Linked DNA regions of Homo sapiens. The protein of the gene in region 1 interacts with the protein of each later gene in a biochemical or structural test. Each region holds a gene or a part of one and is shown on either strand. Other genes may lie near its edges. The genes, in order: CLU, LYZ, ELN and TGFBR1.

Region 1 (7,026 bases):
CCTTGGTCAGAATACATCGACAGTTTTATAATAGAACAGAAAAGCTTCCATTTGCAGCAATATATTTTAGTTGGCTTGTTGAAACACATCTCTCTTCCTGAAAGCAAGCAATTCTTGAAGTGGATCAACCTTGTCATCATATCCCTTTTATTCTTCACCCTTTTATTCTTCACTGGTATGACAGTCCCTATACCATCTTAGCCACTGCTTTTTTGTTTCTACTTATTTTCCATCCCCCCTGCCTGCCCCCCATAGCAAAATGAAGGCATGCCGGGAAGCAGCAACTCAACATAAAAAGAGGACCCTCCAAGCGATCAGCTCACAAGACAGTTTTATTGAATTAGTTGCATGCAGGAGCAATTCTGTTCTTCCCATGAGCAGCAGAGTCGAGTGTTAGAGTGCAGGATCCAGAGCGGGGAGAGGCTGGGCGGAGTTGGGGGCCTGGAGGCTGGGGCCTGGTTACTTGGTGACGTGCAGAGCTCTCTCTGGGGGGCTGCAGCTCATCTTGGGGGGAGCTGGACTCAGATGCCCCCGTAGGTGCAAAAGCAACATCCACATCTCACTCCTCCCTGAAATAAAAAACAGTTATCCTCCAAAGTAAAACATCCTCCAAAGGAAAAATAAAATTCCCCCGTAACTTCCTGGCTTTGTTCTTGGGCTCTGGCTCCGGGCGGAGTCGTTCCCACCAGGCTATAGAGTCTGCACTTTGTTTGTTTTTTTGTGGCTCCCAGAGACTCACTGGGCCCTGCAGGCCCGCAGGAAAGGCCCGCCTGCTTACCGGTGCTTTTTGCGGTATTCCTGCAGCGCTTTCTCCGCCACGGTCTCCATAAATTTAGGGTTCTTCCTGGAGACTTCTACAGGGACCGTCACAGTGATGGGATCAGAGTCAAAGAGCTTCACGACCACCTCAGTGACACCGGAAGGAACGTCCGAGTCAGAAGTGTGGGAAGCCACCTAAATGGAACAAGAGAAAAGGGAAGAGCTGAAACACTGTGGTCAAAATGCATGCGCTCTGCAACAGAAGTCAGGCTTCTGATAAGGAAGTCCTCCTGCTTCTCCAAGGAAACCTAGAGAGCTGACCCCATGCTTCTTATACATCTAGACGTAAGTACAGCTCAGTGGACAGAACGGACCTGGTTCACAGACACTCATGTGTTGGGGCAAATGTCATCTGCAAATGACCAGCCCAGGGAGCACCCCAAAGAATAAAAGTGGTTTCCAAACATTTGCTTTAGAAGCAGCCCTTGGTCAGAGTAGGGTAGAAAAGGAATCCAGAGGGCCTGGAGGGAAGAAAGAAAAGAAAAAGAAGAGTTCCCAGTACTAGAAATAAGTTTTATTTGATTTTTTAACTTTATTTTATTATTTTATATATATATATTTTTTAAGAGACAGAGTCTCACTCTGTCACCCAGGCTGGAGTGCAGTGGCGTGATCACAGCTCACTGCAGCCTCCACTTCAGGGCTCAGGCAATCCTCCCACCTCAGCCTCCTGAATAGCTGGGACTACAAGTGTGTGCCACCACACCTGACTGATTTTTGTATTTTTTGTAGAGAGGGAATCTTGCTGTGTTGCCCAGGCTGGTCTCAAATTCCTGGCCTCAAGCAATCCTCTTGCCTCTGCCTCCCAAAGTGCTGGGATTACAGGCATGAGCCACCATGTCTGGCCTAGAGAGAAGTTTTTATCACTGGCAGAGAGTGATGTACTAATTCATAAGCCATTTTACATGCCAGAGGGCAGCCTTGTAGCTTTGAGAAAAGAACAGAGGCTTCTGGTTTATTCACAGATTTGTGCACCAAAACAAAAACAACAACAACAAAATACAGGCTTGGCAGCCAGGCAGTCAGGTTCAAATACCCGTCCAAGTCATCTGTCAGCTATCACACCTTGGCCAAGCTGTGGAACCTCTCTTACTTTGCTCCTTTGTAAAGCAGGGTTATATTTTCCCTGAGTGGGTGATGAGGCTTCAAGGCAACAGGGGCGCCTAAAGTTTTCTATTTTCTGCCGTGTGATAAATGCTCAGTCAAAAGCACACATGCCCCTGCTCCCGATCACAGCTCGGGCTCCCGAGCCACAGCATGTGGCCGGGACACAGCTCACCGTGGTGACCCGCAGATAGTACTGGTCTTCGCCTTGCGTGAGGTTTGCCAGCCGGGACACCCAGTTAAACTGCTCGTTCAGCTGCTCCAGCAAGGAGGAGGTGTTGAGCATCTTCCACTGGTAGGACTTTAGCAGCTCGTTGTATTTCCTGGTCAACCTCTCAGCGACCTGGAGGGATTCGTCGAGCTCCCGCCGCAGCTTAGCCTGGGAGGGGTTGTTGGTGGAACAGTCTGCCCAGAGATGGAAGAAACGCAAGTGAGAAGTGTGAAGGGAAGGCTACAAAGGGATAGAACCATGAATGAATGGAAGTTAGCACATGCAGCGGGAACAAAAGCAGTGCTTCCCTAAGGGAAGGGCCACAAACTGGAATTGTCCACGACAAAATAAAGGTTTTGCCTCAGAATGTGAATCTAGACACTGCTTCCGTCATCCAGAAAGTCTTTTGGGTTTTTTGTTTTTGTTTTTGTTTTTTTGAGACAGAGTTTTGCTCTGTTGCCTAGGCTGGAATACAGTGGTGAGATCTCGGCTCACTGCAGCCTTGACTTCCCAGGCTCAGGCTGTCCTCCAACCTCAGCCTCCTGAGTAGCTGGGACTATAGGCACATGCTACCATGCCCAGCTAATTTTTGTATTTTTTGTAGACACGGGGTTTCTCTGTGTTGTCCAGGCTGGTCTCGAACTCCTGGGCTCAACCCATCTGCCCAAAAAGTGCTGGGATTACTGGTGTGAGCCACCACGCCCAGCCTGAGAAGCCTTGCTCTGGAAAAATACGCCAACTGACCTAAACAGTGTGCTTCGTAACATCATTGATTTATCTTTGGGTGCCAGACCCTTATCTCTTTGGTGACAAACTGTGTTGACCACACTTCCAAAAGCACTGATCTCAAGTTCTCCATGTTCTCAGACCTGGAGTGGCTCTCGTTGCCCTAGTCCCTCCCGGGAATCATTTCCAGAGAGGAGGAATATTACTCACAGCTGCCATTCGTGTGGCACTGCCTTCGTCCCAGACACCGCAGAAAGTTCTCTCTGGATATCCTTTTTCTCTAAGAATTGGATCTGTTCTGACTTAAGGATTAGGACTTAAGTCCTAATTTTACCAATAATGAAATAATTTTTACCAATAATGAAACTGAGGCCCACAGAAGTATCAATAAATAGCTTACCTAAAGCCATAGAATAAATGATCTCTGGGCCCGGGATTGAACCAGGGTCTTCAGCTCCTAAGCTTGGGCTTTTCCTACCCTGGATCTGTGGTTCTGGACAATCCTCCAAGCTTGTCTTTTTTTTGAGACAGAATTTCGCTCTTGTTTCCCAGGCTGGAGTGCAATGGCGCGAGCTCAGCTCACTGCAACCTCCACCTCCCGGGTTCAAGCAATTCTCCTGCCTCAGCCTCCAGAGTAGTTGGGATTACAGGTGCCTGCCACCACCCCCGGGTGATTTTTTTGTATTTTTAGGAGAGACAGGGTTTCACCATGTTGGCTAGGCTGGTCTCAAACTCCTGACCTCAGGGGTCCACCCACCTCGGCCTCTCAAGGTGCTGGGATTACAGGTGTGAGCCAATGCACCCGGTCCAAACTTGTCTTTTGAGCATGTCTGTAGAGGTGGCAGTTCTGGTGCCAGGAGTTCATGCAGCTGATGCACTGGCACCTGGTGGCCAGGGGTCCTTGCCTGCCCACCTGCCCGCCCATGGCTGGTCAGTGAGTTCATCAAGAGAGCAGGGAAAAGAGAATTCATTCCTCTTGGCCCTGGGCTGCAGGTTGTCAGATTCATTAAGACCTGGAAACTGTCCACTAGCTCTTAAAACTACTGTTTTTCTCCCCCTAAGGTATTTCAAAAATATCCAGAGGCAGGTACATCAAACGTGAGTCAGGGGAAGGGAGATTTTGCATATGCTTTAGGATGATGACTGCAATCATTTATAGTAAACAAAATGTTAGGTGGGGAAAGAAACAGAATTACTAACAAGATGCCAGTTTGAAAATAAATATGTAATAAATAAACTTCATTATTTTACCAAAAAAAAATTTAAAAATAAGAAAAACTAGCTCACACCTGTAATCCCAGCACTTTGGGAGGCTGAGGCAGGCTGATCACTTGAGGTCAAGAGTTTGAGACCAGCCTGGCCAATATGGTGAAACCCTGTCTCTACTAAAAATATAAAAATTAGCCAGGCGTGGCGGTGCACGCCTGTAATCCCAGCTACTCAGGAGGCTGGGGCAGGAGAATCGCTTGAACCCAGGAAGCAGAGGTTGCAGTGAGCAAAGATTGCGCCACTACGCTCCAGCCTGGGTGATAGAGCGAGACCCTGTCTTAAAAAAATAATAATAAAATAAGAAAAATCCTTGAGAGCTGAGGCTTAGTCTAGAATAGAGGTTCTCTACTGGGGTGACGCTGTCACCCAGGGAGATTTAGCAAGTTCTGAAGCTGGTTGTCACAACAAAGGGAAGGGAGCTGCTGACCTCTAGTGGGCAGAGGCCAGGAATGCTGCCAAACACCCTGAACTGCTCAGGACAGCCCCCAACGACAAAGAATGACCTGGTCCAAAATGTCAGCACTGCTCACACCTGTAATCCCAGCACTCTGGGAGGCTGAGGTAGGAGGATCACTTGAGCCCAGGAGTTAGAGACCAGCTTGGGCAATGTAGCAAGACCCCATCTCTACTAAAAATAAAAAAATTAGCCAAGCATGGTGGAGCACACCTGTAGTCTGTTACTCAGGAGGCTGAGGCAGGAGGATGACTTCAGCCCAAGAGGTCTAGGCTGCAGTGAGCTGTAATGGTGCCACTGCACTCCAGGCTGGGTGATAGAGAGAGACCCTGTCTCAAAAAAAAAAAAAAAAATCAACAGCGCTGAAATTGAGAAATCCTCATCTAGAGTTCCCAGGCAGTACGTGCTTATATGGTTGCAAGCACCTTAAATAACAGTAGGCAGTCCTCTTCAGTGTAGACTATTTAGCTCAGCTTAGAGAATTATTCTTACCAATAATTCTCTAAGAATCTATCTCAGGTCAGGCACAGTGGCTCACACCTGTAATCCCAGAACTTTGGGAGGCCGAGGCGGGCAGATTACTTGAGGTCAGGAGTTCAAGACCAGCCTGGCCAACATAGTGAAATGCTGTCTCTACTAAAAATACAAAAATTAGCTGGGTGTGGTGGTGCACACCTGCACTCCCAGCTACTTGGGAGGCTGAGGCAGGAGAATCACTTGAACCCAGGAGGCGGAGGTCGCAGTGAGCCGAGATAGAGCCACTGTACGCCAGCTATAATCAATGACTGATAAGACTGGCGCTGGCTGCACTCTCAACTGTAATCAATGACTGTTAAGATTGGCGCCAGACCTGAGCCCAGCCTGGGCAACAGAGTAAAAATCAGCATAAGAGGTCCAATCTGGGCACAGGCATCTGGACATCTTTTCTCAGACCCTAACATGACTTTCTTGTGGTGAGGTACCATGTAATTGATGCCACTCTATGATATTTTTTATAGAAAAAGCCCCAAGGCCTGGTTGTGCACTCATCTACAGCAACTTATACTTCAGCCTGTTAAAGCACAACTGTTTATTTTGCAGTGGCTTCTAAAATTATAGGAGTGAGGCTAGGAATGTTTAACTAGACCCTGGCGGCCTGCCATGGCAAACTCAAACTAAGCATTAAGTAAGAGCAAAGCCACCAGATCGATAAGCTGTTGACAAGGGGAAACAATTAACTCTTTGTGAGTATGAACTGCTGTGTACCAGGAACTAGTCCAAATACTGTCACAGCTGTTATCTCTAAGTGGAAAGAAGTTAACCCATAACCAGAGCTGGTGAAACGGAGGGGGACAGTTAAAGGGAAATATTCCCTTTGCCTAGGGGACCAACCAACCGACCAAAGGGACTATTGCTTGGATGCCCAGGTACTGAGACCCGTGACTTCTGTGGCCAGAGGCTGCGAGGGGCCCCAGGAGAGAACACAGCGCCCTAGGATTGAAGCCCAGCTCGCCCATGTCGGGGTCAATCTTGGATAAGTTATTAACCTTTCTGTGGCTCAGTTTCCTCAGAGGGTCATTCTGAGGAAATGAGGAAATGTATGTCGAGTGTTTAGAACAGTGCCTGGCCTCTGGTCAGTTTTGTTAAACAAAACACATACTGTCTGCAATGTCATAATCTGCAGAGGAAAATGAAGATGCCTACTGCGCTTGGCGCTTGGGAACAGAATCACCGGGGAGTCCCAGGGGGATGACTTTTTTCAACAAGCTTTTTTCAACATGGGGCCGACCAGGTGGAGGGCACTTTTGCATCTCTAACGACATCTCACCGACTTCAGGGACAGCCTCGCATCATCATCTCATTCTAAGATGAGGAACCGAAGCTGCATGAGGCTCAGGACCTGCCCCGGGACACAGCTCAAAGGCTGCAGAGCTGGAATCCAAACGCTTATCTGTCTGACTCCATAAAGGCAGCACCAGTGAGGCCCCAGTGACCCCAGGACACAAGGGATCAGGGGGGACGGCTTGTGGTCTGGACCCCGACTCACCCACAGACAAGATCTCCCGGCACTTGTCACACTGGTCCTTCATCCGCAGGCAGCCCGTGGAGTTGTGGCGGATCTCCCGGCACACAGTCCGGTCATCGTCGCCTTCTGGGGACACACGAGGGAAGAAGAGTCAGTCATCCAGCCATGCAGAGATGGACTCCACTGATTCCTATTGTTATTTTTATTTATTTTTTAATTTACAGACAGGGTCTCACTCTGTTGCCCAGGCTGGAATGCAATGGTGCAATCATAGCTCACTGCAGCCTCCAACTTCCAGGCTCAGGTGACTCTCTTGCCTCAGCCTCCCGAGTAGCTGAGACTACAGGTGTGCACCACCACACCCGGCTAATTTTTTAAGTTTTTATTTTTGTAGAGACAGGGTCTCACTATCTTGGCCAGGCTGGTCTCAAACTCCTG
Region 2 (6,853 bases), on another chromosome or scaffold:
GCCTGGGAAATCAAAGCTGAAAAAACATAATTGCACTGCTTCACTCCAGTCTGGACAACAGAGTGAGACCCTGTGATATAGTTTGGTTATTTGTGCCCATCCAAATCTCCTGTTGAATTATAATCCCCAGTGTTGGAGGTGGGGCCTGGTGGGAGGTGTTTGGGTCATGGGCGCAGATCCCTCGTGGCTTGGTGCTGTCCTGGTGATAGTGAGTGAGTTCTCACGAGATCTGGTTGTTGTAAAGTGTGGCCCCCGCCAACCCCCGGCAACTCTCTTGCTCCTGCTCCACCACGTGAAATACCTGTTCCTCCTTCACCTTCCTCCATAATTGTAAGCTCCCTGAGGCCTCTCCAGAAGCAGATGCTGGTGCCATGCTTCCTGAACAGCCTGCAGAACCATGAGCCAATTAAATCTCTTTTCTTATAAATTACCCAGTGTCAGGTATTTCTTTATAACAACATAAGAATGGCCTAACAGAGCTGCGTGCAGTAGCTCCTGCTTGTAATCCAAGCATTTTGGGAGGCTGAGGCAGGAGGATTGCTTAAGTCCAAGAGTCCAAGACCAGCCTGGGCAACACAGCAAGACTGTGTTTCTACTAAAAATTTAAAAAGTTGGCCAGGTGTGGTGGCACACACCTGTGGTCCCAGCTACTCGCCTGTGGTCCCAGCTACTTGGAAGGCTGAGGCAGGAGGATTGCTTGAGCCCAGGAGTTCACGCTGCAGTGAGCCAAGATTGTGCCCTTGCACTCTAGCCTGGGCAACAGAGCAAGACCCTGTCTCCAAAACAACAAAACAAAACAAAACTGGCCTAACACCCTATCTAAAAACAAAACAAAACAGAGGGCTATAGCACATTCTTTAGAATATCTTAAATTATGGCAAATCTCCATCTTTTCAGGATGGTTTTAGTTTTGGGGAATAGTCAAAAGTGTGAGAAACCCTTGGTCAAATTCCCTTTCCTAGGCCTGAAGCCCCCAACACTCACCATAAATAATTATTTTTCTCTATCTTGAGAAACAAATAAGTTGAGTAAATCATGACTATTGCCCATTGTAATACAACAAAGTAATCTAGGGTCTGTAAGCAACTTTCCTAAAAAGATAAAATGCATACATTGCATCAAAAAGAACATGCAGTACATACAAAATTTCTGAGGAAGAAAAATTATCTCTGCCCTCAAATCATGCTTACTTGCTATTTTATTTTTAAATAGATTGCTCATTAAACCTACCTCAAATGGAATGACAGGATTATAAATGGATGTTATAACTGCCCTTAACTTCTTCCCCAGGGGAGATAATTAAGGGGATCAAAAACACTTCTTCCCTTTGCAGTAGTCACATGATAACATGCTATCACTTTGGTTCAGGTTGGCAAGCAAATATTTGCTTGTTCCACTTCCAAGAAAGTATAAGGTCATAACTATTTAAACATTTGAAAACAAAAATTAATCTTATCAGCATAAGGCTGAAACCAGCATATGTAATAACTGGCTGTTCTTTAGTATTGAGTTGGGAACGGCATAAAGGGGACCAAAGACTAACTCTTTTTTTCCTTCTTTCTTTCTTTTTTTTATTTTTGAGACACAGTCTCACTCTAGTTGCCCAGGCTGCAGTGCAGTGGTACGATCTCAGCTAACTGCAGCCTCAACCTCCTGGGTTCAGGTGATCCTCTGACCCTCAACCTCCCGAGTAGCTGGGACTACAAGCACATTTTTAAATTTTTTTTTATTTTTAGTAAATATAGGGTTTTGCCATGTTGCCCAGGCTGGTCTCCAACTCCTGGTCTCAAGCAGTCCTCCTGCCTCGGCCTCCCATAGTGCTGGAAATACAGGCATGAGCCACTGCGCCCAGCCAAGACTAACTCTTTTAATTGGTTTCTGTCTCTTTGGGTCCTGAAAATCTGTCTCACTATTTATTATTATTATTATTATTATTATTATTTGAGACAGAGTCTCACTCTCTTTCCCAGGCTGGAGTGCAATGGCACAATCTCGGCTCACTGCAACCTCCGCCTCCTCGGTTCAAGCGATTCTCCTGCCTCAGCATCCCAGGTAGCTGGGATTATAGGCACCCACCACCACACCCAACTAATTTTTCTATTTTTCGTAGAGACGGGGTTTCACCATGCTGGCCAGGCTGGTCTCGAACTCCTGACCTCAGGTGATCAGCCTGCCTTGGGCTTTCAAAGTGCTGGGATTACAGGCATGAGCCACCGCAGCTGGCCATTTTTTTTTTCTTTCTTTTTTTTTTTTTTTTTTTTGAGACAGAGTCTCACTCTGTTGCCCAGGCTGGAGTGCAGTGGTGTGATCTCAGTTCACCACAACCTCCGCCTCCCGGGTTCAAGTAATTCTCCTGCCTCAGCCTCCCAAGTAGCTGGAATTATAGGCGCACCACCACGCCCAGCTAATTTTGTATTTTTAGTAGAGACGGAGTTTCACCATGTTGGCCAGGCTGGTCTTGAACGCCTGACCTCAGGTGATCCACCCACCTCAGCCTCCCAAAGTGCTGGGATTACAGGCATGAGCCACTGCACCTGGCCCTATTTATTATTGAAGAATCAAAATTAGGCCTAGCCTGAAAAATGAGATTATTCTTGATTTTTGAACAGGGTCCTTGAACTGTCATTTAAAACCAAATCTGGTAATCTTTAGAGGCCACTGATGAAAAATAAGGGTAACTACAAAGTGATGACACTTTGTGTGGCTCAGAATCTGTCCTCTTAGGCAGATACAGAAGTGCAGTTCTTTTTGAGTTCTGGTAGCATTGTTTTAAAAGCTGTGCACAGCCTCCTGAGATTGCTATTTTCAAAGGTAGCATTTAGTTGGATATATGTTTGGGTAGGTTTTATTTTTAAAATGCTGTTGCTTTCTAATGACCCCTTATGTTCTAATATGGAAAGGGGAGGCAAAGTATTGTGAAAAGTAGTTGGTAAAGTAGGCCGGATGTGGTGGCTCACACCTGTAATCCCAGCACTTTGGAAGGCCGAGGCGGGCGGATCACGAGGTCAAGAGATCCAGACCATCCTGGCCACATGGTGAAACCCTGTCTCTACTAAAAATACAAAAATTAGCTGGGCATGGTGGTACATGCCTGTAGTCCCAGCTACCTGGGAGGCTGAGGCAGGAGAATTGCTTGAACCCGGGAGGCAGAGGTTGCAATGAACTGAGATTGCGCCACTGCACTCCAGCCTGGTGACAGAGTAAGACTCCATCTCAAAAAAAAAAAAAAAAAGGTAGTTGGTAAAGTTGTTCACATGAACCTTATTTATAATAGTAAAACACTGATTTATAATAATAAAAAATTTGCTATAGTAACAAAAAGAGTCTAGAGTAAGAAACTAGCTGAGCAACGTGGTGTCACACTATACACCCATTAAGACAACAGGCACATGTGTCATGTCCATTTTGTGGAAAAGATATGTAAAATAATTTTAAGTAAAAAAGATAAATATAAAAAAGTGAATGCATACAAAACAATTTCACAAAATTGAATGTTACTCAAAAATCACAGCTCATTTTAAGCTGCACAAAATAGTCATTTTTTTCTTTATAATTGCTCAAATTCATAATCAAACAGAAGAAAGTTCCTGTCTTGGAAGTAGTGCTATGCCCCAATTCTTCCAGAGCCAGTACTTTAAACAATTCCATTTCATTATTTTCCTGTAGACTAATTCTTAGGACATCAGCATATCTCTCTTCAAGCATTAAAAAAATCTCTTTAGAGTCAGTGGATCAATAGACAGTTCCTGTTTTCCACACAACTGAAAGGGTGGAGCCCCCAAACCACAAGGGGAAGAAGGAAGTTAAAAGATGTTAAATACTGGGGCCAGCTCACCCTGGTCAGCCTAGCACTCTGACCTAGCAGTCAACATGAAGGCTCTCATTGTTCTGGGGCTTGTCCTCCTTTCTGTTACGGTCCAGGGCAAGGTCTTTGAAAGGTGTGAGTTGGCCAGAACTCTGAAAAGATTGGGAATGGATGGCTACAGGGGAATCAGCCTAGCAAACTGTAAGTCTACTCTCCATAATTCCAGAGAATTAGCTACGTATGGAACAGACACTAGGAGAGAAGGAAGAAGAAGAAGGGGCTTTGAGTGAATAGATGTTTTATTTCTTTGTGGGTTTGTATACTTACAATGGCTAAAAACATCAGTTTGGTTCTTTATAACCAGAGATACCCGATAAAGGAATACGGGCATGGCAGGGGAAAATTCCATTCTAAGTAAAACAGGACCTGTTGTACTGTTCTAGTGCTAGGAAGTTTGCTGGGTGCCTGAGATTCAATGGCACATGTAAGCTGACTGAAAGATACATTTGAGGACCTGGCAGAGCTCTCTCAAGTCCTTGGTATGTGACTCCAGTTATTTCCCATTTTGAACTTGGGCTCTGAGAGCCTAGAGTGATGCAGTATTTTTCTTGTCTTCAAGTCCCCTGCCGTGATGTGGGATTTTTATTTTTATTTTTATTTTATTTTATTTTATTTTTAAAGACAGTCTCACTGTGTGGCCCAGGCTGGAGTGCAGTGGCATGATCTCAGCTCACTGCAACCTCTGCCTTCTGGGCTCAAGTGATTCTCGTGCTTCAGCCTTCTGAGTAGCTGTGACTACAGGTGTGTACCACCACACCCAGCTAATTTTTTGTATTTTCAGTACAGATGGGGTTTCACCATGTTGGCCAAGCTGGTCTTGAACTCCTGGCCTCAAATGATCTGCCCACCTCAGCCTCCCAAAGTGGTAGGATTACAGGTGTGAACCACTGCACCCAGCCGACATGGGATTTTTAACAGTGATGTTTTTAAAGAATATATTGAATTCCCTACACAAGAGCAGTAGGAACCTAGTTCCCTTCAGTCACTCTTTGTATAGGATCCCAGAAACTCAGCATGAAATGTTTTATTATTTTTATCTACTCTACTTGATTAACTATCTTTCATTTTCTCCCACACAATTCAAGATGTGCCATGAGGAAAAGTTATTTTATAGTTTAGTACATAGTTGTCGATGTAATAATCTCTGTAGTTTTCAGATTGAATTCAGACATTTCCCCTCAATAGCTATTTTTGAATGAATGAGTGAAGGGATGAAATCACGGAATAGTCTTGTTTTCAAGATTCTAACTTGATATCCAAATTCACCTTTAGATATTATAAGAAAATTTCTATCAGAAAATCCTTATGTTTTTCTGATTAAAAAAAGCATTTTTCCATCAGCCTATGTATCTGCTATGAATTTACAAAATCTACTCAACAGCTCTGTTGATTTTTCTGTTCTTGGCTGAATGTTGCCTGAGGGATGGGAGCACGGGAAGGGTAAAAGCAATGGAACAAACATGTATTTTAATATTTTAAAAGTATGTTATATTGTTCGTTGGTGTTACAAGATGATTTGCATTACAAAAGGATTCTCTTACAAGTCCCTTATCTTAACACTAAAGTGCTAAGATATTTTATAAGTAAATCTTTATACTTATAAAACAAATCAGTAAAATAGAAGTAGCTAAGTAGAACTGATTTTGCTATAGAGTATAAGTCACTTAGTGTTGCTGTTTATTACTAAAAATAAGTTCTTTTCAGGGATGTGTTTGGCCAAATGGGAGAGTGGTTACAACACACGAGCTACAAACTACAATGCTGGAGACAGAAGCACTGATTATGGGATATTTCAGATCAATAGCCGCTACTGGTGTAATGATGGCAAAACCCCAGGAGCAGTTAATGCCTGTCATTTATCCTGCAGTGGTAAGACAAGCTAATATTTGACCAATCTGGTTATACTTACAAGAATTGAGACTCAATACAAATGAAAAAGCCTTGAAAGGTTCATGAGGGACCTAGAAAAACTACATCTCAACTTCCAGAAAGTCATTATTATTTTCCTCATAATTCCCTGAGTAAGAAATTAAAGAAGTGGTATCATAAAAGGTTGATGTTTTTTAATATACAGAAGTTTCTGGAATGACCTATTAATTTACTGTCAATGGCCTTACTGATGCTTTGTCCAGAACAATGCCATTGCTCCTGCTTACTTTGGGGAGGTTTTGGGATAATTTAGTTGTATGGTCCTTTTTCAATTGTTTTACTTTTTTTTTTATGAAATGTTCTAAATGTATAGAAAATTAGAGACATTAGTATAATAAACAGCCATATGCCCATTATGCACTTTAAAAGTTGTTAACATTTTGCCATAGTTGCTTCTTCTATGCCTTTTTTTTTTTTTTTTTTTTTTTTTTTTTTTTGCTGAGAGTTTTTTGTTTGGTTTTGTTTTGTTTTATTTTGAGACAGGGTCTCCCTGTCCCCAGGCTGTAGTGCAGTGGCACCATCACAGCTCACTGCAGCCTCAAGTGATCATCCCACCACAGCCTCCCAAGTAGCTGGGACTACAGGTGTGCACCACCATGCCTGGCAAATTTTTGAAATTTTTAGTACAGGCAAATTCTGTGTTGCCCAGGCTGGTCTTGAACTCCTGAGTTCAAGCAATCTTCCCACCTCAGCCTCCTTAAGTGCTGGAATTACAGGCGTTAGCCACTGTACCTGGCTACTGCTGAGAGACTTTTAAGTGAATTAGGAACATGATGATATTCCATTTCTAAATTCTTTAGTTTACATCTTCAAAAAATACAGTTCCTGTAGAATTATTATTGTAAATAACAAATTAACTTAAGGATTTATTTATTTGGAGTGAAACAAATATTTTACTGAACTCATAAAAATAGAAATACCATGTGGAATCCTCAGTGTCAAAAATATTGCAGAAATCTTGCAAAGTTGATATTATTAAATTGTTAAATATTAAAATTCCCAATAAAGAACATTAATCTTATTTCTAAAATCCAGTTAATTAAAAAAATTTATATTATA
Region 3 (7,026 bases), on another chromosome or scaffold:
CTCTGCAGGGTCCCCTCCCTCTGCTGAGTTAATCAGGGCAAAACAATAGAGATGGCATCTCAGGTAGAGTGATCAGAAGGGGCAAAGGTAAGGAGGCATGAACAATGCATATTTGGGAAGGAACAAAGGCCAAGTCCATCTGGCTTTGCGGCTAGGGTCTCCGAGGTCTATGCAGGGGCCCGAGCCGTGGACTTGCCACCCCGGGAGGCACTCACCATACTTGGCTGCCTTAGCGGCTGCTGCTGCAGCTGCAGCTGCAGCTGGAGTCCCAACGCCTGAAAACACAGCCACAGAGGGTGAGGTCCTTGCCCTGTGGCCATCTCAAGGACACACCCGCCCCCTGCTGGGACAGATGTTACCTGCGATGCCTCCAATTCCAGGAATTGCCCCAGGCACGCCAGGAACACCAGCCCCTCCAACACCAGGGAGGACTCCGGCTGCTCCAGCACCTGTTGAGATGGGGACAGTGCAATGTAGTTTCCCAAGGACCCTCCTGAGGACAGGCAGGATGGCCACTTAGACGCCGGCGTTTTCACCAGTGTGATCTTATCCAGGAATGGGGCCCGGGTGTCTCCAGATGGGCCTGTCTGGGGAGGCCCCCACCCCACTCCACTGTTCCTTGACTCTCCCCCAAAGTGTCCATTTCAACACACTCATTAAGGGACTTGTATGTTTTCAGACAAATCCCATTCTAATCACTGCCACATACTGAGAAACCACAAGTGGCCGCTCCCTGGGCCAGAGGGTCCCCTGCAGGAATGTTCAAGACTTCCTCTCCCTGTGTTCCGAAGATGCAGCCAAGTTTGTAATCCAAGCGCCTGGCTGCTTGGCTCTGGCAGCCCCTCACAGCCCTGCTCTCCCGCTCCCACATTGCAGCCGTCCCCACCAGCCGCTGGGGCCAAGGAGCCTCGGGTGCTGGGAGGGGGGCCTGCGGGGCCTCCACTGGGAGGCCCAGCTTCAGGCTTCTCCCCACATTCTCGCTCTCTCGGGCTGGTGGGGAGATAAGGAAAGGGCTTCCCTGGGGCTGAGGATGAAGGAGGACTTCAGCCCTAGTGGTCTGACCCTGAGGTGGGCACTACCTGGGGCAGGGGACAGATGCCCACTCCACCCACTGCACGGGCACAGGAATACCACGTTCCATCTGCAGCCATGCTAGCCAAGAACTCACTGACCTGAGCAGTGAGTTAACATTTTTATAGTACACATTAAATTGATACATAACTATTAAATATTTTAAATGCTTATATATGCACCACCTAAAATTATCTTTCTAACCACCGTGGTACCCATTCCCTCTGCTTGGCCTCCTCTTTCCTGTTTTAACCACATGGTAAGCTCCATCTTTATTTTTAAGGCCTAAATCACATGTCACTTTCTCTGGGAAGCCTTTCTAACTTTCCTCAGGTAGAAAAAAATGCCTCCCGTTTCTTGACTCCCACAACAGTGGCTATATTCTCTAAGAGAACTCTTGTTTGTCCCTGATCTCTGATATGGATGGGTGGGAGGAGGCAGTGAGGGAGGGAAGGAAGGAGGCATGGATGAATGCATGGAGGAAAGAATGAATGAATGAATGAATGAATGAATGAATGAATGCATGGGTGAATGGATGGATGGGTGCATGGATGCATGGAGGAATGGATGGATGGATGGATGCATGCATGGAGAAATGGATGGATGGGTGCATGGAGGAATGGATGGAGGGATGCACGGAAGAATGGGCAGATGGATGGATGGATGGATGGAAGAATCAATGGAGGGAGTGATGGATAGATGGATTGATGGATGGATGGATGGATGGATGGATGGACGAGTGGATGGATGGGTAAATGGATGGATGGATGAGTGGATGGATGAATGGATGGATGGATAGATGGATGCATGGAGGAATGGATGCATGGAGGAATGGATGGATGAGTGGATGGATAGAGGGAAGAATGGATGAATGAGTGGATGGATAGAGGGAAGAATGGATGGAAGGAAGAATTGATGGGTAGATGGATGGATGGATGGATAGATGGGTGAGTGGATGGATGGATGGATGGATGGATGGATGGATGGAAGGATGCATGGAGAAATGGATGGATGGGTGGATGGATGCATGGAGGAATAGATGGATGGATGGATGGATGGATGAATGGATGGAAGGATGGATGCATGCATGGAGAAATGGATGGGTGGGTGCATGGAGGAATGGATGGAGGGATGCATGGAAGAATGGGCAGATGGATGGATGGAAGAATCGATGGAGGGAGTGATGGATGGGTGGATTGATGTATGGATTGATGTATGGATGGATGGATGGATGGATTGAGTGGATGGATGGGTAAATGGATGGATGGATGAGTGGATGGATGAATGGATGGATGGATAGATGGATGCATGGAGGAATGGATGCATGGAGGAATGGATGGATGAGTGGACGGATAGAGGGAAGAATGGATGGATGAGTGGATGGATAGAGGGAAGAATGGATGGAGGGAAGAATTGATGGGTGGATGGATGGATGGAAGGATGAATGCATGGAGGAATGGATGGATGGATGAATGGATGCATGGAGGAATAGATGGTGGATGGATGGATGGAAGGATGGATGGAAGGATGGATGCATGCATGGAGAAATGGATGGATGGGTGCCTAGAGGAATGGATGGAGGGATAGATGGATGCATGGAGGAATGGTTGGATGGATGAATGGGTATATGGGGGAATAGATGGATAGATGGTGGATGGATGAATGGAGCGAGGGAGTGATGGATGGATAAATGGATGGATGGATGAGGGGATGGATGGATGGGTGCATAGATGGATGGATGCATGGAGGAATGGATGGATGCGTGGATGGATGGATGGAAGAATGGATGGAGGGAGGGATTGATGGATGGAAGAATGGATGGAGGGAGGGATTGATGGATGGATGAATGGGTGGATAAGTGGATGGATGGATGGATAGATGGCTGCATGGAGGAATGGAGGATGGATGAATGGAGGGAGGTAGTGATGGATGGGTGGATGAATGGATAGATGGATGAGTGGGTGGATGGATAAATGGATGGATGGATGTGTGGACAGATGGATGGATAGATGGATCCATGGAGAAATGGATGGATGGATGGATGGATGGATGGATGGATAGATGGATGGATGAATGGATGGAGGGAGAGATGGATGGATGAATGAGTGGATGGATGAGTGGATGGATGGATGGATGCATGGATGTGTAAATAAGTAGATGAATGGATAGATAAGTGGATGGATGGATAGATGGATGCATGGAGGAATGGATGGATGGATGGATGAATGGATGGAGGGAGAGATGGATGGATGAATGAATGGACGGATGAGTGGATGGATGCATGGATGGGCAGATGAGTACATGAATGGATGGATGGATAGATGGATGCATGGAGGAATGGGAATGGATGGAGGGAGGGATGGAGAAAGTAATAGATTGATGGAAGGATGAATGGATACATGGATGCATGGAAGAATGGTTGGAGGGAGGGATAGATAGATGGGTGATGTTGAAAATTTTGAGTAAATGGGGGTATGTAGGGGCCACTTTGGAGGCAGGCTGTCAATAGTAATGGGAATGGAGAGGCTAGGGGCCTGGAGGCCACCAGGTGGGGACTCCAGGGGCACTCACCGAACTTTGCTGCTGCTTTAGCTGCCGCTGCTGCTGCTGCCTGGGGGCCAACCCCTGGGGGAAGGAAGCAGAGGGGAGAGACCTTGAAACAGTGCTCCTGTATCTCCAGAGCCCACTTGTTCCCAGCCCCAAGAGAGCCAATCCACTGACATGTGGGTATACATGGGAGCTTCAGAGTAGGCAGAGGCTGATGGAGCTGCCCCACTCCTCCCCCAGGATCCTGCTCCAGGTTTGGACCAGGGTCTGGATGCAGGGTGGGCTGCTGCTTTCAGGAGGGAACCTCACCCACCCCAGGGCTCTGGAGCCTGGAAGATCAGTGCTCCCTTGGCTGGAAGTGACGTGAGGCTTTCCTTACCTGTCCCTGTTGGGTAACCAGCCTTGCCCGCTGCACCAGCCACTCCTCCGGGCCCATAGCCTGCAAAACAGAGAGGCTTGATGGTCATCTGTGCAGACATCACCACTGCTGCCCTCCCCCTCCCCCTGCTCTGCCCTCGGGGCCCAAGCTGTCCTGAGTCTGCACCTGTCACCCCCAGCCAGAGTGAAAACAAATACAAACACATGTATGGAGTTGTTATGTCCATTTTACAGATGAGAACACAGAGGCTCAAAGAAGCAACACAGCTCACTTAAGGTCTCATTATTGATAGGTGGGAGGGCAGGGATGGAGACCCATGCTGAGTCCAAATTCCATGCCCTTTCCTTCTGAGATTCCCACTCCAAGACCCCAACCCTGCCCCAGCGAGGTGCTCTCCTGGCCCAGGGCTGGAAGCACAGCACCCTTGCTAGGACCCTGGAGAGGGAAAGAGCTGGAAGCCCACAGTCTAGAAGGGTCTCACTCACCATAGGGCAGTTTCCCTGTGGTGTAGGGCAGTCCATAGCCACCTGGAGAGAGGACAGAGCAAACTCAGGGGCTGCCCCATGCCTTGCTGGGCTCCCACCAACCTGGGTGGACAGATCTACCCCCACAGGTGCTAAAGCTTGAGACCTCCCACATCAGGGTCCTGAGCTGCTCCCAGGAGAGCAAAGGCGCTGGGTGAAGGAGGGAGAGGACACCTCTGCCCCCGAGGCCCATGGAACACCCATCCCCCTACAAATTCAAGCCCCATCATGGCCCTGGAGTCTGAGTATTTTCCTTACACCCCCTCCTCAGTGGAAAGCATCTTATTGTCTAAGCTGATTGCAGAGGTAGGGGCGGGAGCACGAGTGGGTGGATGTTAGAGGGATCTTTCCAATGAACCGTGTTCCTTTCCACCAGCCTAATAGCTTCAGATCGGGACTATGGGTCTCTGTGCATGAGCGTGTGTGTGTGAGTTCAATACCTGCAGATGACTTTCCCATGCTCTCCTTGGCTGGTGACCATACAGGGGCTTCAACACCCCTTCCCTGCCACCAGAGACACCTGTACCCAGGCTGACTTCTGTGCAGGGAGGTGCAGTGAGTGGTACATTTTTTTTTTCTTCTTTTTCTTTTTTTGGAGGAGAGTCTCACTCTGTTACCCAGGCTGGAGTGCAGTAGCGCGATCTCAGTTCACTGCAACCTCTGCCTTCTGGGTTCAAGAGATTCTCCTGCCTCAGCCTCCCCAGTAGCTGGGATTATAGGCCTATGCCACCACACCTGGCTAATTTTTGTATCTTTAGTAGGGACGGGGTTTTGCCATGTTGGCCAGGCTAGTCTTGAACTCCTGACCTCAAGTGATCTGCCCGCCTTAGCCTCCCAAAGTGCTGGGATTACAGGTGTGAACCACCACACCCGGCCGAGTGGTGCATCTTGAACCGTCCCTCTGACTTACCAGGCAGCTTGGGGGCCTTGATGGGATACCCCAGTGGGACTCCAGGTTGCGGTCCCCCAAAGGGTCCAACTCCTGTGGGAATAAAGAGAGCAAGTTCAGGTCCCAGCACCCCCTTCCAAACCCTCCGCCACCCACTCCACTTTCTGCTCAGACAGAAGGAGCTTGCTACAGCATCCAGAAACCATCCTGCTTCGAGGGACTCCCTGAATCTCCATCATGGGTCAGTTGAGAAATTCCCAGTGACAGGCCACTTCCTCCAGGAAGCTACGGGATTCTCTCCCTCCTGGGGCCTGGGCCCCAGTTTGGGCCTGCAGCCCTTGGCACAGGCTGGAGGGTTTTCTGGACTCCTTTGAATTTTGGGCTGCTATGCCAGTGGGGGGAGCAGGCCTGGGATGGGTGCCACTTTGTGCTACAGCCACTGCAAGACCTGGCTCTGCAGGCGTGGGAGAAATTGGGCAGGCTTGGATGGGATCTTGGGTGCCCAACCCCTCCCAACGCCAGAGCCTCTGCCTGGCTGGCCACCCTGCTTCTCCCACCAGCCTTGCCTCACCTGGGATTCCAGCAAAAGCTCCACCTACACCTGTAATGATAAAAAGCTGTCACTACAGCCCTGGAACTGTGGACACTGGGCCAGACAGCACCAAGGGGCCAGGAGGCCCAAGGAATGGCCAGTTCTTCCCAGACCAGTCATCGCATGCTGCGCTCACATGAACTCTGGGGTTTCTTTTTTCGGAGATGGAGTTTCGCTCTTGTCGCCCAGGCTGGGGTGGAATGGGGTGATCTCAACTCACCGCAACCTCTGCCTCCCAGGTTCTGGCGATTCTCCCGCCTCAGCCTCCCAAGTAGCTGGGATTACAGGTGCAGGCCACCACGCCCAGCTAATTTTTGTATTATTAGTAGAGACAGGGCTTCACCGTGTTGGTCAGGCTGACCTCAGGTGATCCGCCCACCTCGGCCTCCCAAAGTGCTGGGATTACAGGCATGAGCCACTGCATCTGGCCCTCTTTTCTTTCTTTCTTATTTTGCGGGGGAACGGGGTCTCTGTTGCCCAGGCTGGAGTGCAGTGGTGTGATCATAGCTCACGACAACCTTGATCTCCTGGGCTCAAGAGATCCTCCTGTCTTAGCCTCCTGAATAGTTGGGATCATAGGTGTGTGTGACCATGTCCGGCTAATTTTTTAATCATGTTTTTGTAGAGATAAGGTCTTGCTATGTTGCCCAGGCTGGTCTTTAACTCCTGGGCTCAAGCGATCCTCCCAGCTCACCCTCCCAAAATACTGGGATTACAGGTGTGAGCCAGTGTGCCCAGCCACACTCTGAGGTTTTTCAGCACCAGGCTGCCCAGGGCTGGAACATAAAAAGTGTCACCCAGAGGGCCCTGAGCCAGTCCAGGATCCCACCCCATTTCACACCCGGGGCCAGAAGGTGGTTGGAGAGTCCCTGCCATCAGCCCTCTGTCCAGACAGCTGCATACCTGGAGCCTTGGGCTTAACTCCTGCTCCAGTGGGAACTCCAGGGAGCACCCCCACACCGGGGAACCGAGCTCCTGCCGGGGGACAAAGCAGTGAGTGTAGGAAGGCAGGCCTTGCAGGCCC
Region 4 (7,221 bases), on another chromosome or scaffold:
CAAATAGAAATCAACAAGCATTTATGTGGAATAGAATATAAAACACAGTGCTAAGTTCTGAGGCCACAAAAGAAAGAAATGGCATGAATCTTGTCCTCTGGGTACCTATAACGCATTCAAGTAGAGTTAAGTAGCAGCACAGGCAGTAGAAATGGACAACACAAACTGTTAAGTGTTGCAGAGTTCTGGAAGACAAAGAATTCAAGAACTAAACCAGCACAGGAAGTCAGGGCTGAGAACTTCTCGCACTCCCAAAAAAAGGGGCAAAACTAAATGTGTAGTGAAAAGGCTGAACAGTCAGGAGTCAGTGAGAAAGAGAAATTGCTCGAAGGTCTGCAGTAATGAGAAATGAGATCCCTGGTAGGATACTCAGAGATGGCCCCAATCATAAGCTGCTAAGTGTTGTTCTAAGTGCTGAATACAAATGGGAAATCTTATAAACCTTCACGGGGAAGGCTGAGGAAGATTAGTTTGGCAGTAGCCATAGAAAAGCCTAGATGAGAAAAACATGGGAAAGCAACTAGATTTGGAGGATAACAGGCAGGATTAAGCTGAAGGCTGCATACCAAGAAAGGAGGAGACATTCAAGAGGCATTCATAGAAGAGTTGGATTGGGGGCACGTTTTCAAAGAAAAAAAGTTATGAAATGGCAGAAAGGAAGCAAATAGCATTCTCAGATGGGATATACATATAGACATAGTGGTACTAAACTGTGCACTAGGGATAAGGAATCAATTTCCCTAGAGAAACCTATGTTGGAGACAGAAGTTGGGCAGAGAACATTAAAACATACTCAGAACATAAAAAGGTGCAAGTCTTTAAAAGGGAAGCCAAGTTACAGAGGAAATAAAAAGCATTTGACCTTTTTCAGAATGTTTTTTAAGGGTGGACTGAGGCATCATCATAACCAACAGGGGAGGCAGACAAGCTGAGGCAGTCTGGGCTTAGAGTAATAAGCACCTGGACAGCTTTGTATTTTGTGCATACCATGGAGACTGTAAACTCCTCCAGGACATGGACTGAGCAATGTTCTGTGTCTTCAACTAAGTCCACTACTGTTACTTGAATACATGAACGCTTCTTGTGCTACTTCTGGTGGAAAAGAGTGCACTGTGTTATTCAAGTTAATAGCGGTGTGGAAATGTTACCTGTGTTTCATGCCTAACTATACTGATTCTCCCAAATGTCCACACAGTTATCCTGCCTTCCTCCCTAGGCCAATGTCAAAAATCCATTGTTTCCTCTAATGCAGGCCCACGTGAAGGGACTCAACAATGTGCTAAGAGTCGGAATGAAGCCTATCTGATACTCAAATCATGAGGACAGAATCCAAAGTGGATAATAAAGACCAATTGCTCATCAGACGACTGAAGAAGAAAAATGGGCTACGCCAGATAGTATGATGTATACATATTTATATATATATATGACATACAGGTTTGGGAAACTGAGATCTGAGTGAAAATCCTAGCTTTAGCACTTAAGTTATTGGGTACTTAACGTGTCTGTACCCCACTTTGCACATCTGTAAAGTGGGGCAAATGCCACTACTCCTGGGAGTTTACTTGTGGTGATTAAATAATGTAATTATACAATAGTGTATGCATTTACATCGTAGTAATGCACAATACATAGACGGTAGCTATTAGGACTGATTATAATCGTCACCGTCAGTCTTGATTTTTTAAAAAAATTTCAACATCTTTTGTCCAGTTTCAGAAACAGAAATGTACTTTCACTGCATTTTAGTTGCTAACACTGAGGCTGTGTATTTTAGCTTCTAGTGTCTCAGTTCAGCTGCTAACGAAGTTTTTCACTCATCCCTTTGTGGATACCAACCACCTACCCCAACCTGATTTACTATTTTGAAAAATCCAGCCAACAGTCTTCCTTGAAAACCAGCTATACAGATGTCTGAATCAAACTATTAACTGTCACTCAAGAAAAGGAACAACGTGAGTGATGTTCCTTCGAGGAAATAAAAAGCGTTTAATCAATTCACAGTCGTTCCCAAAATTTCCAAAACCCGCAGAATGAGCAAACGTTCAAGTTTCCACTATGAAAACAATCCGTAGCCGTCTGGTTACTGGACTCACTTCAACACTCCCCAGACGCACGAAAGAAGAAACATTCCGCGCATCTCCGCGCTTCCTTCTTCTCACACAAAGCCCCCCTGGCTGGAGGAGCAGCCCCTTCCAGCAGGGTCGGCTCGGGTCGAGCCGGGCGGGAGTCAGGGCGGCCTGCGGACCCAGGGGTCTCACCACACGTCGCCCCCGACTCCCACTGGACGAAGCCCTAGAGGCTCGGAGCTCACACCCCGCCCGGGAGCCGCCTTCCACCCCAACCTCAAACCCCGCCCCGGGTTCGGCAGCCTCTGGCACGGACCCTCTTGGGGCGGGGGTCCCCAGAACAAGGTCACGCCGTGCCCAGGGGGCGGCGGCGGGCAGCCACGGCTCTGCCAGTCCCCGCCGGCCTCGCACTCTCCGCCCCTGGCCCTCGCCCACTCACACCCCAGAGGGCAGCCCCGGACCTCGGACGACTCCGCCCGACTCCACCTCCCCGGGGAGTCCCGAGCGGGGCGGCCTCGGGCAGCCGGACACGTCCGCCCGCGCCCGGACACACGCCCCTGCCCCGCCTCCGCTCCCCGCTTGCGGTTCGCCCGGCAGCCGCCGAGCCGCGCGGCGCCACGAGAGCCCGGCCCGGGCCCCGGCGCCGCCACCTGCGCCCCCGGCCCCGCGCCATGTTTGAGAAAGAGCAGGAGCGAGCCAGAGGCCGGGTCCGGCCCGCGCGCCCCGCAGTCGCCCGCCCGCCGCGCCGCCGCTCACCCGTCGCCCCCGGGAGCAGCGCCGCCGCCGCCGCCGCCGCCGCCGCCAGCACGAGGAGGAGCAGCCGGGGACGCGGAGCAGCGACCGCCGCCTCCATGGTCCCGCCGCCACCGCCTGTGGCCCGGCCCGGCCCGGCCGCGCCGCTGCCTCACCCCAGCAAACCTCGCCTCGCCCCACCTCCCTAGCCGCCGCGGCGGCCTCGCTCCGGCCCTTTGTAACTGCTCGGAGGACGCGCGTCCATTGGCTGCCGGGCTCCCGCCGGCCCCGCCTCCCCGCCGCCGCGAGCTGCCAAGCGGGACCCAGCCGGGAGCCCCGCCTGCGGGCCCGCCAGGCAGCCAATCCGCAGCCGCGAGCGCCGGTTTCTGGCCACGCCCCACGCTCCCCGGGGGCTGGGCCGCCAGACCCCAGCCCCGGCCCGATCGGCTCCCGGCTCCGAGAGGCCGCGTGGGGGCGGGGTCTGCCAGCCCCAGCACCGCTCAGCCGCTAGCCCCGGAGGGCCGGGTAGAGCGATGGGTGTGTCTGTGTGAGTCTCTTTCGGAAAAAGGCTGTGGCCGTTCGACGCTCTTTTCTTCTAACCTCCTCTAGGCGCGGAAGATCTGGTACTGCCTCAGCCCCACCCTGACCCCATTCACAGCTCCGCATTGGCAATCCCAGCACATGCCACCCAGATCCGCTGCAGCGCCAGGCCCCTGCATCCACTTCAACTTCCCCTCTCCAAGTCCACGCATCAACTTCAGCATTCCCCCGAAGATCCCTCCTCAGTGCCCTTCACATGCGACTCACTCTCCTATTTCCTCCTGCTCCCAGCGGTCACCCCAAACCCAGCTCCCCCACCCAGTTCCAAACCCAGAAAGTCCTCAGATCCCAGCGTCAGACCCAGATCCTGAGCCCAAACACACCCCCAAATAGCCTCCCGCCTCCCTCCAGCACAGATCCAGGATGGGGATCCAAGCCGCACTCCTCTCAAACCCCTTCCCGATCCAGGTTGGAAAGGGAGGATCCCCACCCCAACCCCTCAAAGGAGGGGTTCCCCCTTCTTAGCACCCAGCTCCCGCGGGGCGGAGGGGGAGCAGTCATCATTACTTTGAGCTGTGTCTGACACTGCTGTATAATAATCCTGAGGTGTCACTAAAAACCCAAATAAACTCTACGTTTTCATTCTGAATTCCTAATTTACTGCGAGACGCTCCACCCACCTTCCCTCTGCGACGCCAAAATGAGCTCCAGATTTGTAATTCTTCCTGTCAGACTAGTCCTTTCTTCAGACACAAACACAGCCAAGGAGGCTGTTACGTAGAACAGAGAATATTTTTCCGCAGAACCTTTTAAGGAGGAAATTTTATTTTCTGTGTCATTTGAGCTTAGAATTAAATAAACCTTGATAGCAGGAATCAGAATGGTTCTGATTAATGCCAATTTGTGCACTACTTTAGAGTCACTGGGTGAGCATTTTCCCCACCTGTGAAGGCTTCCTTCCGGGAGATGAAAAGGGAAAAGGCGTGGATATTGGAGCTGGGATCTGAGACCCGCGCGCTTTCTCCCTCCTGTCTAGGACACTTACTTAAGCAAGTCAGCTAACCTTTCTGAACCTCCAACAGGCTCAGAGGCCTGCAACTTGCTCTACACCGCAGCTCCAGCAGCCTCAGCAGCAAACTCCCCTCTTGCTCAGGCTGAGGGATTCCAGAGAGATGGCTTCTGGCAGGCTCCAGTCCCAATTTGCCCTCTCAGTTCCAGTTTCTTCAATGGAGATTTGGTGGACTTTGTGCCACCTGAGGTCCCTAGACTGCCTTTTTGCTGCTCTATTTGCAATGTCTTTCATAAGATAAGAGCTAATGAGATTTTTATTGTATGAATGAATGAATGATCTCAGAAAGTGACTGTTTTTCTCTGGCCATTAGCTTCTTCATCTCTAAAATGTAAATAATAATAGTACCTACCCCGTTTATAAATAAAAGGGATTGAATCACTTGTCTTGGGCCCCTTAAATGACGTAATGTGTCTGGTACAGTGTCTGGAACATAGTAAATATTTAGCTAATGCCATTTCTTTGCCCATCCCCTTCCAGCTCTGTATGATTCTAATCAGCATGTATGTTCATGTCAGTCTGTGCCTTTGACGTACGGAGCCTAGATTAATCAGTGTTAATCACACCTCCAGTTCCTTAACATTTTCCGTGGAATTCAGTGGATACAATAGGAAGGAAAAACAGACTATTTTTAAGTTGTATCTTCCTGATACTAGGAGGAAATTTCCATGAGCCACAGATCCATAAATAAACTACACTAGAATGGAACACTAAATTATTAGTTTAAAATCATGGTTCCCAAATTGTAAAGTCTCTCCAATTACCTGGAGAGCTTGTAATAATACAGATTCCTGGGTCTCCCTCGGCCCTAGCAAGTCTGCTTCAGTTCATGTGGAGAAGGTTCAGGAATCTGCATTTGTAATAGACATCCCAGGTGATTCTGCTGCAAGTGGCACTGGGCCCGCTTCAAAAGACACTGCTTTACTTAAAATTCAGTAAATAAAAATGCATGACCTTATTTGCCTTTTGAGAAAGGTTGGATGGGCAGTAGAAAGAAGCCTCTGGCTTTGGAGGCCTACAGACCCGACTTGAAATTCTGGCTGCCACTCACTAGATGTGGGTCTGGGAACACTATTTGACTGCTTTGAGATTTAGCATCCCCCAGGGTAAAGGGAGATACTGTTGTGAGGTCTAAATGAGCTATTGCACATTAAGGAATCTGTCATAAATGTTAATTCCCTTCAGTCTTTACAGACTTACTTGTTGTTTAAAATGCTTACATGTTATTTACTCCAATGTCTTAATTTAAAGGGAAGGAAACTGAGGATCAGTTCCCCAGCAAGTCAGCTGCAGAGCTAGGACTAGGAGTCTCACTCCAGTGCCTTGTACCCTGTGTAATGTTGTCTCTTAATCTTTATGCCAAGGACATTGTTTGCTTTTCCTTTTGGATTAGTTCCTTAAGTAAGAGGATTTCTCCAAAATAGAGAGCAGAGACTGCTTGTCATCTAAACTACACCCATTCTTACATTTGCTTTATAATGGAGTCCTGTTTTTCTTTGGGAAAGCAGATCACCTAGAAAAAATATATATGTCAATTTCCCAGGCTCCTTGTACCTAGGTATGGCCATGTGACAAGAGTTCTGGCCAGTGACATGTAAACAGAAATCTACTTTCCACAAGGCGGAGCCTGTACAAAAGATACTTCCTAGTTAAAAAAAGAAGAGACTCATCATATTCTCTCTTTCTCCCTGGAACACAGTTGCAATGCCTGGAGGTACAGCAGCCATTTTGTAAACATAAAGGCGATAGCCAAAACTGAGGACTGTAGAGAGAAAAAATGGAGAGAGTCTAGGTTTTTGATAAATTTCCTGAACAGTTGCACCAGCTCTATAATGCCTATTTCTTATTATATGAGAAAAATTAATCTATTTTTTATTCACTTTGAATAACTGCACCAGCTCCATAATGCTTATTTCTTATTATATGAGAAAAATTAATCTATTTTTATTCACCTTAGAATGCTTCTATTCTGCTCATTTGTCCATCCTATTTATTGTTGCATATTTTATTTCTATCTTATTTTCTAACCTACAAGACATTATTGACTTCTGCCATTATTAGCTATTGCTAATTCTTGGTGCTCCTAACTGAAAAACAAACCACCTCAAAATTTAGTGGCTTAGAATAATAACCATATATCATCTTTCATGAGACTGTAGGACAGTTTTTCAGGTTTAGGCCAATTTATGCTGATTTCCACTGAGCTCACTTATGAGTCGGTTGTCAGGTGGAAGGGGGTGGAAGAGGGTAATGAGCTAGATCAGCTCCTCCATGTGGATTTTCATCCTCCAGCAGGCTAGCCTAGGCTTGATAACATGACATTCATTATCCAAGATAATGAATGAAAGCGTGCAAGAGCCTTGAGTCTAGGTTTAGAACTGGCACCGGCCAGGCATGGTGGCCCATGCCTGTAATCCCAGCGCTTTGGGAGGCCAAGATGGGGCGATGGCTTGAGCCCAGGAGTTTGAGGCCAGCCTGGTTAACATGGCAAAACCACTTATCTACAAAAAATACAAAAATTAGCCAGGCATAGTGGTTCACACCTGTAGTCTCAGCTACTCAGGAAGCTGAGAGGTTGGAGGATCGCTTGAGCCCAGAAAGTCAACGCTGCAGTGAGCCATGATTACACCACTGCACTCCAGCCTGGGTGACAAGAGTGAAACCCTGTCTCAAAAACAAAACAAAACAAAAAAACATCCACTGGCACAACATCACTTCTACCATATCCCATTGGTTTGGGCATGAACTGGGGCTGAGCCCAAATTCAAAGGGTGGGGAAAAAGACTCCATTTTTTTTGATAAAAAGGAACT

What was found.
Region 2: the proteins of CLU (region 1) and LYZ form a complex in vitro, tested with the Homo sapiens proteins (one study listed by BioGRID).
Region 3: the proteins of CLU (region 1) and ELN form a complex in vitro, tested with the Homo sapiens proteins (one study listed by BioGRID).
Region 4: the proteins of CLU (region 1) and TGFBR1 form a complex in vitro, tested with the Homo sapiens proteins (one study listed by BioGRID).

The regions. Positions count from the first base shown.
Region 1 is NC_000008.11:27,597,682-27,604,707, forward strand, and holds part of CLU (clusterin isoform 1 preproprotein), read right to left. Parts: intron 6,715-7,026; coding exon 6,610-6,714; intron 2,329-6,609; coding exon 2,099-2,328; intron 955-2,098; coding exon 779-954; intron 570-778; coding exon 560-569; 3' UTR 1-559.
Region 2 is NC_000012.12:69,344,539-69,351,391, forward strand, and holds the start of LYZ (lysozyme C precursor), read left to right. Parts: upstream 1-3,842; 5' UTR 3,843-3,870; coding exon 3,871-4,006; intron 4,007-5,569; coding exon 5,570-5,734; intron 5,735-6,853. UniProt on the Homo sapiens protein: Lysozymes have primarily a bacteriolytic function; those in tissues and body fluids are associated with the monocyte-macrophage system and enhance the activity of immunoagents.
Region 3 is NC_000007.14:74,045,173-74,052,198, reverse strand, and holds part of ELN (elastin isoform a precursor), read right to left. Parts: intron 6,978-7,026; coding exon 6,906-6,977; intron 6,012-6,905; coding exon 5,982-6,011; intron 5,504-5,981; coding exon 5,432-5,503; intron 4,525-5,431; coding exon 4,483-4,524; intron 4,058-4,482; coding exon 3,998-4,057; intron 3,697-3,997; coding exon 3,643-3,696; intron 450-3,642; coding exon 360-449; intron 276-359; coding exon 216-275; intron 1-215. UniProt on the Homo sapiens protein: Major structural protein of tissues such as aorta and nuchal ligament, which must expand rapidly and recover completely.
Region 4 is NC_000009.12:99,100,907-99,108,127, reverse strand, and holds the start of TGFBR1 (TGF-beta receptor type-1 isoform 1 precursor), read right to left. Parts: upstream 3,016-7,221; 5' UTR 2,923-3,015; coding exon 2,826-2,922; intron 2,554-2,825; exon of another isoform or gene 2,531-2,553; intron 2,315-2,530; exon of another isoform or gene 2,097-2,314; intron 1,093-2,096; exon of another isoform or gene 988-1,092; intron 1-987. UniProt on the Homo sapiens protein: Transmembrane serine/threonine kinase forming with the TGF-beta type II serine/threonine kinase receptor, TGFBR2, the non-promiscuous receptor for the TGF-beta cytokines TGFB1, TGFB2 and TGFB3.